3 linked regions of the Homo sapiens genome follow. The protein of the gene in region 3 interacts with the protein of the main gene of each other region in a pairwise test. Each region holds a gene or a part of one and is shown on either strand. Other genes may lie near its edges. The genes, in order: MIF4GD, LHX4 and CHCHD2.

Region 1 (2,728 bases), on a different chromosome or scaffold from region 3:
CTTCTCCCCAGGCCTGACCAGGGCTGGTCCAGAGGGAACATGTGGCTACTCCTTAGAATTCAGGGAGGCAGGAGGCCCCAAACCCTGGCAGACTCTTGGACCAACTTGCCTATGTCCTGTCTCACCCAGGTCCCTGTACCCCTACCCGACCGGCGTCGCCGCTTCCTAGCCATGAAGTGGATGATCACTGAGTGCCGGGATAAAAAGCACCAGCGGACACTGATGCCGGAGAAGCTGTCACACAAGCTGCTGGAGGCTTTCCATAACCAGGGCCCCGTGATCAAGAGGAAGCATGACTTGCACAAGATGGCAGAGGCCAACCGTGCCCTGGCCCACTACCGCTGGTGGTAGAGTCTCCAGGAGGAGCCCAGGGCCCTCTGCCGCAAGAAACAGTGTGAGCTACTGCCACGCTGAAAACTACCTGTGGGTTAAGGATGTAGTTCCTTTGTAAGGGTGGGCAGGCCTCGTAAGAAAGATGTAGCAGCATATTCACTATCCGTTAATCCTTCTTTCTTTGAGGCTGGAACTTGCTCTCTCTGCCCCTATTTCCTTGTAAAGAGGGAGCACATTGACTTGGGAATTTCCTCCAGGAAACTCAGGGCTGTTTTCTCTTCCCTTAGGTTGGGGCGGACCTTTGGATATATAAAGGAAGCAGTTTTAGTATCAGAAAAGATTTATTAGAAAATTCTCACGCTGAACTGGTGTAGCATGTGGTGCAGCATTCAGTGAAACTGGCTGGAGGAAATAGGCTTGTTTCCAGAGTTGTCCTTATACAAAATGTATAAAAAGCAGTTTCTGGTGTGACTTGTGCTCTGCCTCCACCCCTTGACATCCCAAAATATCCCACCAGTGGCTATGCTTACCCATTTTACAGATGGGTAAACTGAGGCACCAAGGTAGTAGTTGCACTAATGGTTACACAGTGCAGTGGCTCTTGGGAGTTGCCCTTCTCTGCCTGGCCGTGGTGGGTTGTGGTGGGGAAAGGGGCTCAGGGCAGGACCACGGCATAAGTGGGAAACATCTCACCAGGAGATGGGAAAGTCTAGAAGGGAAGACACTCAAAGTCTGGAAGGGAAAAGTCTTTGGGTGAGGCAGAGACTCCACTGCCAGCTTTAGAGGTGGGTAGAAGAAAGGCCAGTGCTGGTGAGGAAGCCCTGATCTGGAGGCCTAGTCGGAGACTTCGCTGTAGTAATACTTGTGGGCAGCTGGCGTTGTCTTCCAGCCGGCCGCCCGGAACTCAATGATCTCCAGCAGCAGCAGCTGGGCCAGGGAGCTGAGGCCAGTTGGGAGCAGGAAGCCATCCCGGATCAGCACAAAGAGCTCATCCATGCGCTGCCCATTCATTTTCTCCAGCTGCTCCCCAACCCGGTGCAGCTGCAGCACCAAACAGTCCACCTGCAGGCGACAGTGTGGGTAACACAAGTGAACTGGGGCAGTGCCAGCCTCTCACACAGCATTTGCCAAGTGCCAGGTGCTGTGCTTTGCCTTTACACTCATTCCCTTGCTCCCTCCTTACCATCCAGTGGGTACTTCCACATCTTACACAGAAAGAAATGAGTTCCGGGACTTGCCTGAGGTCCCTCATCTGGCCAGGCTCCACTCAAGCCTGTCTCCAAACCACTTCTTCATCCCACTCTCCTGCCTCCCACACACTGCCTGACCCTGGTTTGGCTTTGGGGCCGTCTGTACCCACAGCTAGCCATGGCTTGCACAGCTGCCATCATACGTTGGCTTTCTGACTGAGAAGGAAGCTACTGAGCCAGTAGGTTTTGGCTGCTCTCTATTGGATAAACTCCAGACCTGGCAGCTTGTCCTATAACTGACAGGCCTTAAACACCCCCACAGTCCTGCCCCAGAAGTGACACAGTCCTCAGAGACCTCCGTGAGCAGTGGGCTGACACACGGCTGAGCTGGACTGTCCATCCTGCAGCCTTCTGTGCTTGTGCCAGGGCTGGGGCCACCCACCTCCTCCTCCTTGCTCAAACTGTCTGGCTGGGCCAGCCGGAAGAGGCAGTCATAGACAGGGTTCACCAGGGCCATCATGGGCATGTTGTTCACCTGTGAGGAAGAGGAGGGGTCAGAGCACCAGGCTTAGTGGCCAAGGGGAGCAGTCCAACCTGGGCCTCAGGAAACAGGCCATGTCTGCCTCCCAGGGTGGCTGCCGGGGCCTCACCCTCAGGTAGTCAAAGATGTTGCAGATAAAGGTGACATAGCAGACCCAGCCCTGCAGGGAGCGTGCTCGCAGCTGCTCCCGAGCCTGGTACTCCTGCTGCAGCCGGTTGAGGAGTCCACGTCGGAAGACACTCTGGCCTGCTTGTTTACTCTCTGCCTGTGAGCCAGGGAGAGGAAGGTGAAGGGTGGGGGGCGGTGCCCCTGTAACCCCACCCATCCTATGCCTCTCTCTCTCTTTGAGCTAGACCCTGTGCATCTCTGTCCTGCAGGCCAGGCCTTCTGCCCACTCCTGAAGCACCTTCCTCAAAGCAGCTTCCTTTCCTCTCCCAACCCCCAACCTGAATGATGGCGTAGCACATGCGTCCTGCTTCCTTGCTGAACACACAGTCCTGCAGAGAATGGTCCACAATCACATTGGCCACTTTCTCCAAGTCCACAGCACCCGGATCTAGGGGTAGAGATAGGAGGGGAGTCTAGAGCTGCTGCTTTATCACATTTGTGTCCACCCGCTTCTAAGAATTTGAGATATTTACAGTAGAGCACTCATATGCTTGAA
Region 2 (3,824 bases), on a different chromosome or scaffold from region 3:
ACCTAGACTCAGCCTTGGCAAACTGTAGCTCTGAAGGTGAGTTCTGGGCATTTTAGCAAAGCGACTCCCTGACGTCGAACATCAAAGTTGTCTCTGAACAGGGAAGGCAAAAAGTGAGACAATCAGAGTGTCACTCATCACAAGAAAGGCCGTCAGAGCAGAGACCATCGTCCTTCATTGGGGTCCCAACAGACAGGTCACCTACGGACCACAGCCATGAAAGCACAGACGTACTGGGTACCAAGGACACTAGTAACACACACACACCCTTCCCCCACTCATGCAGTCTCCTCACTCGCGCAGAGCTACAAGCAGCTTAAGGACTCGGTGCACCTTTGCAGGGTTTCTGTTTCCGTCTTTGCAGGGGCTGAGAACCCACTCTGTCCCTGCCTGTGTGCGGGGTGTGGGGCGTAGTGAATCTCCAATGCCTTCTATGAAAACATCTTAGCGGTAAACTCCCCAAGGCTCAACACAGACGTGGAACTGATTGCCGGCAGTTGACACGAAAACACTCAAAGAATAACTGTAGAATACAGCCAAGAAACAATCTAAATAGGCTTGGATGAAGCTATTCTTTTCTAGTCCCTTCTCAAAAACTTCCCAGGGAAGCCTACGGTACGCCTGCCCTCCGAAGGATCGCCGGACAGAAACCCTGCCATGGAAACCCGAGGCGCAGGAGGGCGCGCTCGTGCGCCCTAGTTTGTAGGTAGTCACCATCCCTGGATGAGCCGGCCCTTACTTAAAGTAAACCCCGAAGATGTAGCTACCGCACCACTAAAGAAGTCGCAGGCGGAAGTACAACCCCTTGGCAAGCGGAGCGAGGAACTCCTTGGTCTCTCCAGGGTGCCCGGGGCGCCCTGCTGAGCGTGCAAGCCACAGGGGCAGGACTCTCCCGGCGCTTGTCGCGCGCGCGCGCGCGCGCGCGCGACGACTGGGCACCTGTTCTGGCCTCTGCACAGATTCCCTCTCGGGGACTCTCGCTCAGGAGTGAAGCACAGAGACGGATTCCCTTCGGGAAAATCTCTGCGCGCGCACACCCATACACACAGAGAGAGACTTGGGGATAAACACGCCGCGAGCTCCGGCTGTCTCGCTAATTTCGGGCGCGGGAAGAAAGCGGGCGGGCAGGCTAGCAAAGCTCCCACACACCCCCGTCTCTACCCCTCCAAACCCGAGCCACCCTGAGCACCTGCCCTCGCGTGCGCAAAGGCTGAACCCGGAATTCACAACTTGCGGTCGCTTCTCCCTCCCCTGCATTCCTAGGCTAGCTGGAATGCGCGAGCAGATTCCCTCACAAGGAGCAGTCAGTTTCCCGCGGCGCACGCGGCGGGCGCCGCGGGCAGTAGCGGCTGGGGACTCACCCGGCACGCACGCCCGGGGCGCGGGCCGCAGGGACTAAGAGTGTGGCCGGGGCTTCTCCGCCGCCAGCCCCAGGGGCGAGAGACGCGCTCTCCAACTTCCCGCCAGCTGGGGTGAAGTTGCACTAGCGGTCCTGCAAGCGCTGACCGTCACGCCGGCGAAAGAAGATTTGTGGGGACCACCCTCGCCCTCAGGCCTGGCCTACAGCTCGTACCCCTGGGTGTCCCCAAACAGCACTCTCCCCAGCGTTCCAAGAAAAGCCTTGGGCTGGAGATGCGGGGTTCGGTACTCGGCTCGCCTCAAGCATGATCCAGGAGGCGTTCACATTCGGCCCCAAACAGCCAAGAGCCTGGCCCCCTCAAACGCACTCTGGCTGGTGCCCCTGCCCTGTGACCGCCTCTGCGCCCCGGCCGCCAGCCCCTCCCGGCCCCTGAGCGGCGTCCGGCCCGCCCCGCAGCGGCTGAGGCTGCTAGCTGTCTTGTTAGAATTAAATCAGCGAGAAAGGGGGGTGTCTTACGTTGCATCGGCACACCTAGCATCTCCGGGAGCCCCTTGACAGCCCCTTCCGCGGGGACAGTCGCACTCTGCATCATCTCGGAGCGAAAGCCAGCGAGTCGCAGTCTACGGAGATCTCTCGCTCTCTCGCTCTAGCTCGATTCAGAAATTTCAAAATAATAATTAAAACCCCAAGCAGGCCGCTGGAGTCACGGTGGAAGCCGGGCCCTCCGCTTCTCAGGGAGGACTCCACAGGCTGGCCGGCCCCCTCCCCCCGCCAGTCCCCAGTCTGTTTCCAGTCCCTTTGATCTCGCTCTCCGGGGTTGGTGCACATCCCAGGTTGAGACGCTGTTGCTGCAGCTCTGGCTTTTTTCCTCTTCCCTCCCCCGCCCGCTCCTTCCCCCTCCCCCTCCACCCTTCGCGTGCCGGCCGCCCGGGAGGCCGCGGTCACCCGGGCGTTTTGATTCATTCACACTGCAGGAGCGGCCGTGACGTCGCTTTCCGCAGGGAGGCCCGCCCTTCGGCACATCCCCCAACCCGGCGGCGGGCAGCCGACCCCGGAGGGAGTGGGGGTCCCGGCGCCCCGAGTGAGGCCGGCGGGGCGGAGGGGGGCGGGGCGGCAGGGAGCGGGGCGGGGCCTCGCAAGCCGGCACCCCCCCCCCCTCCCCGCCTCCGCCTCCGCCTCCGCCCAGCCGTGGCGGGCTCGCGCCCTGGGTATAAATTCTGCTGATGGCCTGCCGCGGCAGCAGGTGGTCGGAGACGGCGGCGCCCTGGGTTTGCGGGTCTTCGTGGGTTCCAAGCCCGCGCGGCTCGTGTCCTCCTCACTCCTCCGTTCGGACCCAGGGGCGGGGCGGAGCCGAGCCGGGGCCGAGCGGGGCAGGCGGTCCGGAGGCCGGGGACGGGGCTGCGTCGCTGTGTCTTCGCCTTGCGCGCTCTCGGTCCCCGGCTTCGCTCCGCCGGACGGAGCGCGCTCCGTAACCGATGACTCCATCTATCTTCCTCCTCCTCTTTCCCCTGGCCAATTCCTTTCCTGCCGGCACTTCCCAGCCCCTGCTCTCTCTCCCCCGCGTCTGGCTGAGGCTGGGCCAAGGGACAGCCCGTACTCGGCCCGGAACGCGCGAGTCACGCGGCGGGCGGCGCCGGCCCGGGCTGGGGAAGGGGACCAGGGGCTGTGCGCGGAGGTGGCGGGACGCAGGCCCCCCGCGCGCGTCCCCGCAGACCGCGGCCTGCAGCCGGAGTCCGCACTTGCCTCCAGTTCCGCAGGGTAGGGGGCCCAAACCTCCCCGCGGCGGGGCCTCCCCGGCCGCCCTGCCACCAGTCGTCCAGCTCGGCCCTGTCTTAGGTCCCTAGAGCCCGCTCTGCCTCTCCGGCTGCCACCGCGGGTGCTTTGAACCATCCGCGACCTCGTGCGTGCAGGGCGGCAGTGAGCACACGGACGCCGGGGTTAACCAGCGAAAGGGCTTGCCATGCTTACTGTATTTACGAGATGCATGGACAGGTAGAGAAACGCTTAAAACAAATTCTCCTCAACGCGAGTTTCTGGCAGAAATACAACAGAAGGCCCAACGCTGGGACGAGGTCTCCTCTGACGCTCCATCAGGCGCTCGACGCCTCCGGGCTGCAGGCGCGGGAAGCCCACCCCGTCTGCCCCAAGACCCAGCCGCTCTCCTGCCCCCAGCCCCCACGGCATTTCCTTCCAGAAATGCAGACATACGTGTCCTTCCAGCCTAGTGGGGTTCAGCTTAGGCGGGAAGGGGGACTGTGTGCCCTCCCCAGCCTTCCAGAACCTTCCCTGCTGTTTCCCCTGGTGTCATCTCCAAACAAGGGACACCTGCTCACCTTTAAGGGAGGAGCATGGGGCGGGGGAGAATGGCCTGGTCGTCTGCGCTGCTTAGAATTTGTCTCCAATGAGGTCACAGTGACTTTTGTGTGTCCTGGTACTGGGTTGGCATCATCTCTTCCCTTGTTTA
Region 3 (3,600 bases):
TCAGCTCACTGCAACCTCCACCTCCCAGACTCAAGCGATTCTCTTGCCTCAGCCTTCCGAGTAGCTGGGATTACAGGCACCCGCGACCACCTCCGGCTAATTTTTTGTATTTTTAGTTGAGACGAGGTTTCACTATGGTGACCATGGCTGGTCTCCAGCTCCTGACCTCAGGTGATCCACCCGCCTCGGACTCCCAAAGTGCTGGGATTACAGGTGTGAACCACCACGCACGGCCTAATTTTTTTTTTTTTTTTGAGACAGGGCCTCACTCTGATGCCCAGACTGGAGTGCAGTGTCACGATCCAATCTCACTGCAACCTCTGCCTCCTGGGTTCAACCGATTCTTCTGCCTCCGCTTCCCAAGTAGCTGGGATTACAGGCGCGCACCACCACACCTAGCTAATTTTTGTATTTCTAGTAGAGACGGAGTTTCACCATGTTGGCCAGGCTCGTCTCGAACTCCTGACCTCAAGTGATCCACCCGCCTCGACCTCCCAAAGTGTTGGGATTACAGGCATGAGCCACCACGCCCGGCCACTTTAATCTTTTCTTATAATAGTAATAGCCTAGGACATACTAGTTTTTTCTGCTTCTTTGCAACAATTTCCATGTATTCGGATAGCCCACAGTATCTTTAAAGACATATCCAACATGTCATAAGAAATACAGACTACTAAAAGTTAGAAAGATTCTTACAGGATTCATTCATTCAAGTATTAGGTAACTACAAGGCGCTGGTAATGTAACTGTGAACAAGAGACAAAAATCTCTGCATTCATGGAGTTTACATTTTATTGACGGATCAAATAATTAACATAGGCTGCGGAGTGGTGGCTCTTGCCTGTAATCCCAGTGATTAGGGAAGTGGAGGCGAAAGGATCATTTGAGGCCAGGACTTTGAGACCAGCCAGGGCCACATAATGAGACCCTGTCTCTGCTAAAATATAAAATAGAATAAAGTCGCCAAGTGTGGTGCACAGGTGGCGCATGCCTGTAGTCCCAGTTACTCTGGAGGCTGACGTGGTAGAATAGCTTGAGCCCAGGAAGTCAAGGCTGCAGTTAGCCATAATTACGTCACTGCACTACAGCCTGAGTTAGACTCTGACTCAAAATATAAATAAATAAACATTCTAATTAGGACTTAAAGATGGTCAACTGGGGAAATAATCTAGTCCAATTCCTTCATTTTACACATTACAAAACAAGACTGGCCAAAGTGACTCGTCTGAACTATTATACCAAAAGCAACTTCAACTATTCCTCATCTGTTCAACGTTCAGATGCTTTCAACAATTTCGAGACCCCTTCTCAAATAACAAAAGACTAATTATGTCCTGCACGTATTTAAAAATCTTCATATGTATCACGCTCCCTCTGACCATTTCCGGATTATTTCCTTGGGTGCTCTTTTCCCCGAAATCAAGCTAGGTCAAAATTTATGCCTTCCTACCACCTGGCCATAACGTTATGCCTTTCCCGTTGTTTGGATAGGAAGCTTTTTCCGTAAGTGAATTCCCTCCCCACACTCCCCTAACATAGGCTTTACGTTCAATCTACCCCCGCCTGGCAGAGGCGAGCCCACGCCGCAGCCGACCTTAGTTCACCCCCGCCCGCGGCCTCCCTCTGCGTCATTGCCCCAGTAGAGTCCGGACGGCCGCGCTTTGGTCTCAAACCCTGCGATGGTCTCACCTGGCCGGAGGGGCCATGCGGGAGGTGCGGCTTCGGCTTCCACGCGGCATCCTAGGTAAGCGACGGCTAGGCCTCCGGACGTGGGACAACCACCGAAGAGCTAAGCGACTTCTGAGGAGACCGGAAGATGGGAGGCGGGGCTGGCCTCAACGCGCAACCAACCAGCACACAGGCAGAGAACTTCCGTTCTCCGTCGTCTCCGCAGGCCTGAAGTTCATTGGAAGAGCAGGACGTCACGGGGACGCCTCGTCCTTCGCGGTCAACGCCCTGAACTTGGCGCCAGGATCTTTAAAACCCGGAAGTTCCTGTGGTTCATCCGCGAACCTTGTCCTCCGGTCCTCGCATCAGAGCACTTAGCATTTTGCTTCCCTAGGGCAGCTGGCCTGTCGCTCCGTCCTTCAAACATTTGTATTAAATCCAACCTTAAGAGTGACTCACATCTCTGGCTGGATTGCCAGGGGACCTTGGGCAGATTTCTTAGCCTTTCTGAGCATTCAGTTATAAGGGCAAATATTTTTGGAGGCACAGTGTGGACGCGTAGTATGAACTGAATGAAAGAAATCGGTTTCGTCAAAAATAAACAGAGTTGAATTAGTTGTATTTGGTATTTCTCTTTCTTGTCTGTGGATCCAGTCAGCAAAAGTTAAATTCAGGCAGCAATAATGTTTTACATTTATGTATTACTATATATTTTCAGCTCCTTTTCATATGTATTATAGAATTTGTGTCCAGAATTGGGACAGTAACCATACACTGGTAAATTCAACAAAAATTTACTGTCTAACTGGGTTATGGAGATACTGCACCAAATCAGATAAGATTCTACCTTCACGAAGTTAAGTTTCAAGGAGGGGAGACACAAACGCCTACGTAAATCAGGTGGTGGTGACATGAAAAGAGAGGAAGGAGACTGGAAATTAGAGGTTAGGCGGGGCGGGGGGGAGTCATTTGAACGGAGCCCTTGAAGAGGTGGGGAAGCAAGCCATGTGTTTATGAAGATAAGAACACTACAGGAAGAGAGAACAGCAATTGCAAAGGCCCCAAGGATCTGTGCTTTAGTGATACTTGGTGTGAAATGCTTTTTTTTTTTTTTTGAGACGGAGTCTGGCTCTGTCGCCCAGGCTGGAGTGCAGTGGCGCGTTCTCAGCTCACTGCAGCCTCCGCCTCCCGGATTCAAGCGATTCTCCTGCCTCAGCCTTCCGAGTAGTTGGGATTACAGGCGCACGTCAACCCGCCTGGCTAATTTTTTATTTTAGTAGAAACAGGGTTTCGCCATGTTGGTCAGGCTGGTCTTGAGCTCTTGACCTCAGGTGATCCATCTACCTCGGCCTGCAAGGGCTGGGATTACAGGCATAAGCCACCAGGCCCAGCCTGAAATGCTTTCAACAGTTACATTAAACATCGCTAAAATAAGGGGAAATTTGGCTAGTGGCATTTCATAAGGGGCTCATGGGAAAGTCCCTTGCGGTTGGAGTGAGGTTTATTGAGGAGAGGAAGCACACATGGAACCATTTCTGCTTGATGTCAATCAGAAATTTCTCCCTTCCATCAGAGGAAGTAGAGTTTAAAACAGCCTTCCTGTGTCCCAGCAACAGCAGAATGTACTTGGAACTAAAGGGTGAATAATGTGGCAGCTAAGCTATGAGGATGCAAAGGCAAAAGAATGATATAATGGGCTCTGGGGATTTGGAGGGATGTGCTAGGTGGGTAAGGGATAAAAGACTACACTGTTGAGTACGGTGTACATTGCTCAGGTGATGGGTGCATCAAAACCTCAGAAATCACCACTAAAGAACTTTTCCATGTAACCAAACACCACCTGTTCCCCCAAAAGTATTGAAATAAAAAGATTTCAAACAATAAAAAGGGTGAATTATATAAAAATCTTTTGTAAAAAACAAAGCTTTATTT

Evidence for each region.
Region 1: the proteins of CHCHD2 (region 3) and MIF4GD interact in binary tests that used the Homo sapiens proteins (3 or more experiments, as listed by UniProt).
Region 2: the proteins of CHCHD2 (region 3) and LHX4 interact in binary tests that used the Homo sapiens proteins (3 or more experiments, as listed by UniProt).

What each region holds. Positions count from the first base shown.
Region 1 is NC_000017.11:75,265,573-75,268,300, forward strand, and holds the end of MIF4GD (MIF4G domain-containing protein), read right to left. Parts: intron 2,621-2,728; coding exon 2,511-2,620; intron 2,330-2,510; coding exon 2,174-2,329; intron 2,059-2,173; coding exon 1,966-2,058; coding exon of another isoform or gene 1,879-1,965; intron 1,396-1,878; coding exon 1,168-1,395; 3' UTR 656-1,167; downstream 1-655. Other genes in the region: MRPS7 (small ribosomal subunit protein uS7m), read left to right, coding at 130-351. UniProt on the Homo sapiens protein: Functions in replication-dependent translation of histone mRNAs which differ from other eukaryotic mRNAs in that they do not end with a poly-A tail but a stem-loop. May participate in circularizing those mRNAs specifically enhancing their translation.
Region 2 is NC_000001.11:180,228,658-180,232,481, reverse strand, and holds the start of LHX4 (LIM/homeobox protein Lhx4), read right to left. Parts: upstream 2,219-3,824; 5' UTR 1,953-2,218; coding exon 1,877-1,952; intron 1-1,876. UniProt on the Homo sapiens protein: May play a critical role in the development of respiratory control mechanisms and in the normal growth and maturation of the lung. Binds preferentially to methylated DNA.
Region 3 is NC_000007.14:56,104,675-56,108,274, forward strand, and holds the start of CHCHD2 (coiled-coil-helix-coiled-coil-helix domain-containing protein 2 isoform 2 precursor), read right to left. Parts: upstream 1,803-3,600; 5' UTR 1,740-1,802; coding exon 1,690-1,739; intron 1-1,689. UniProt on the Homo sapiens protein: Transcription factor. Binds to the oxygen responsive element of COX4I2 and activates its transcription under hypoxia conditions (4% oxygen), as well as normoxia conditions (20% oxygen).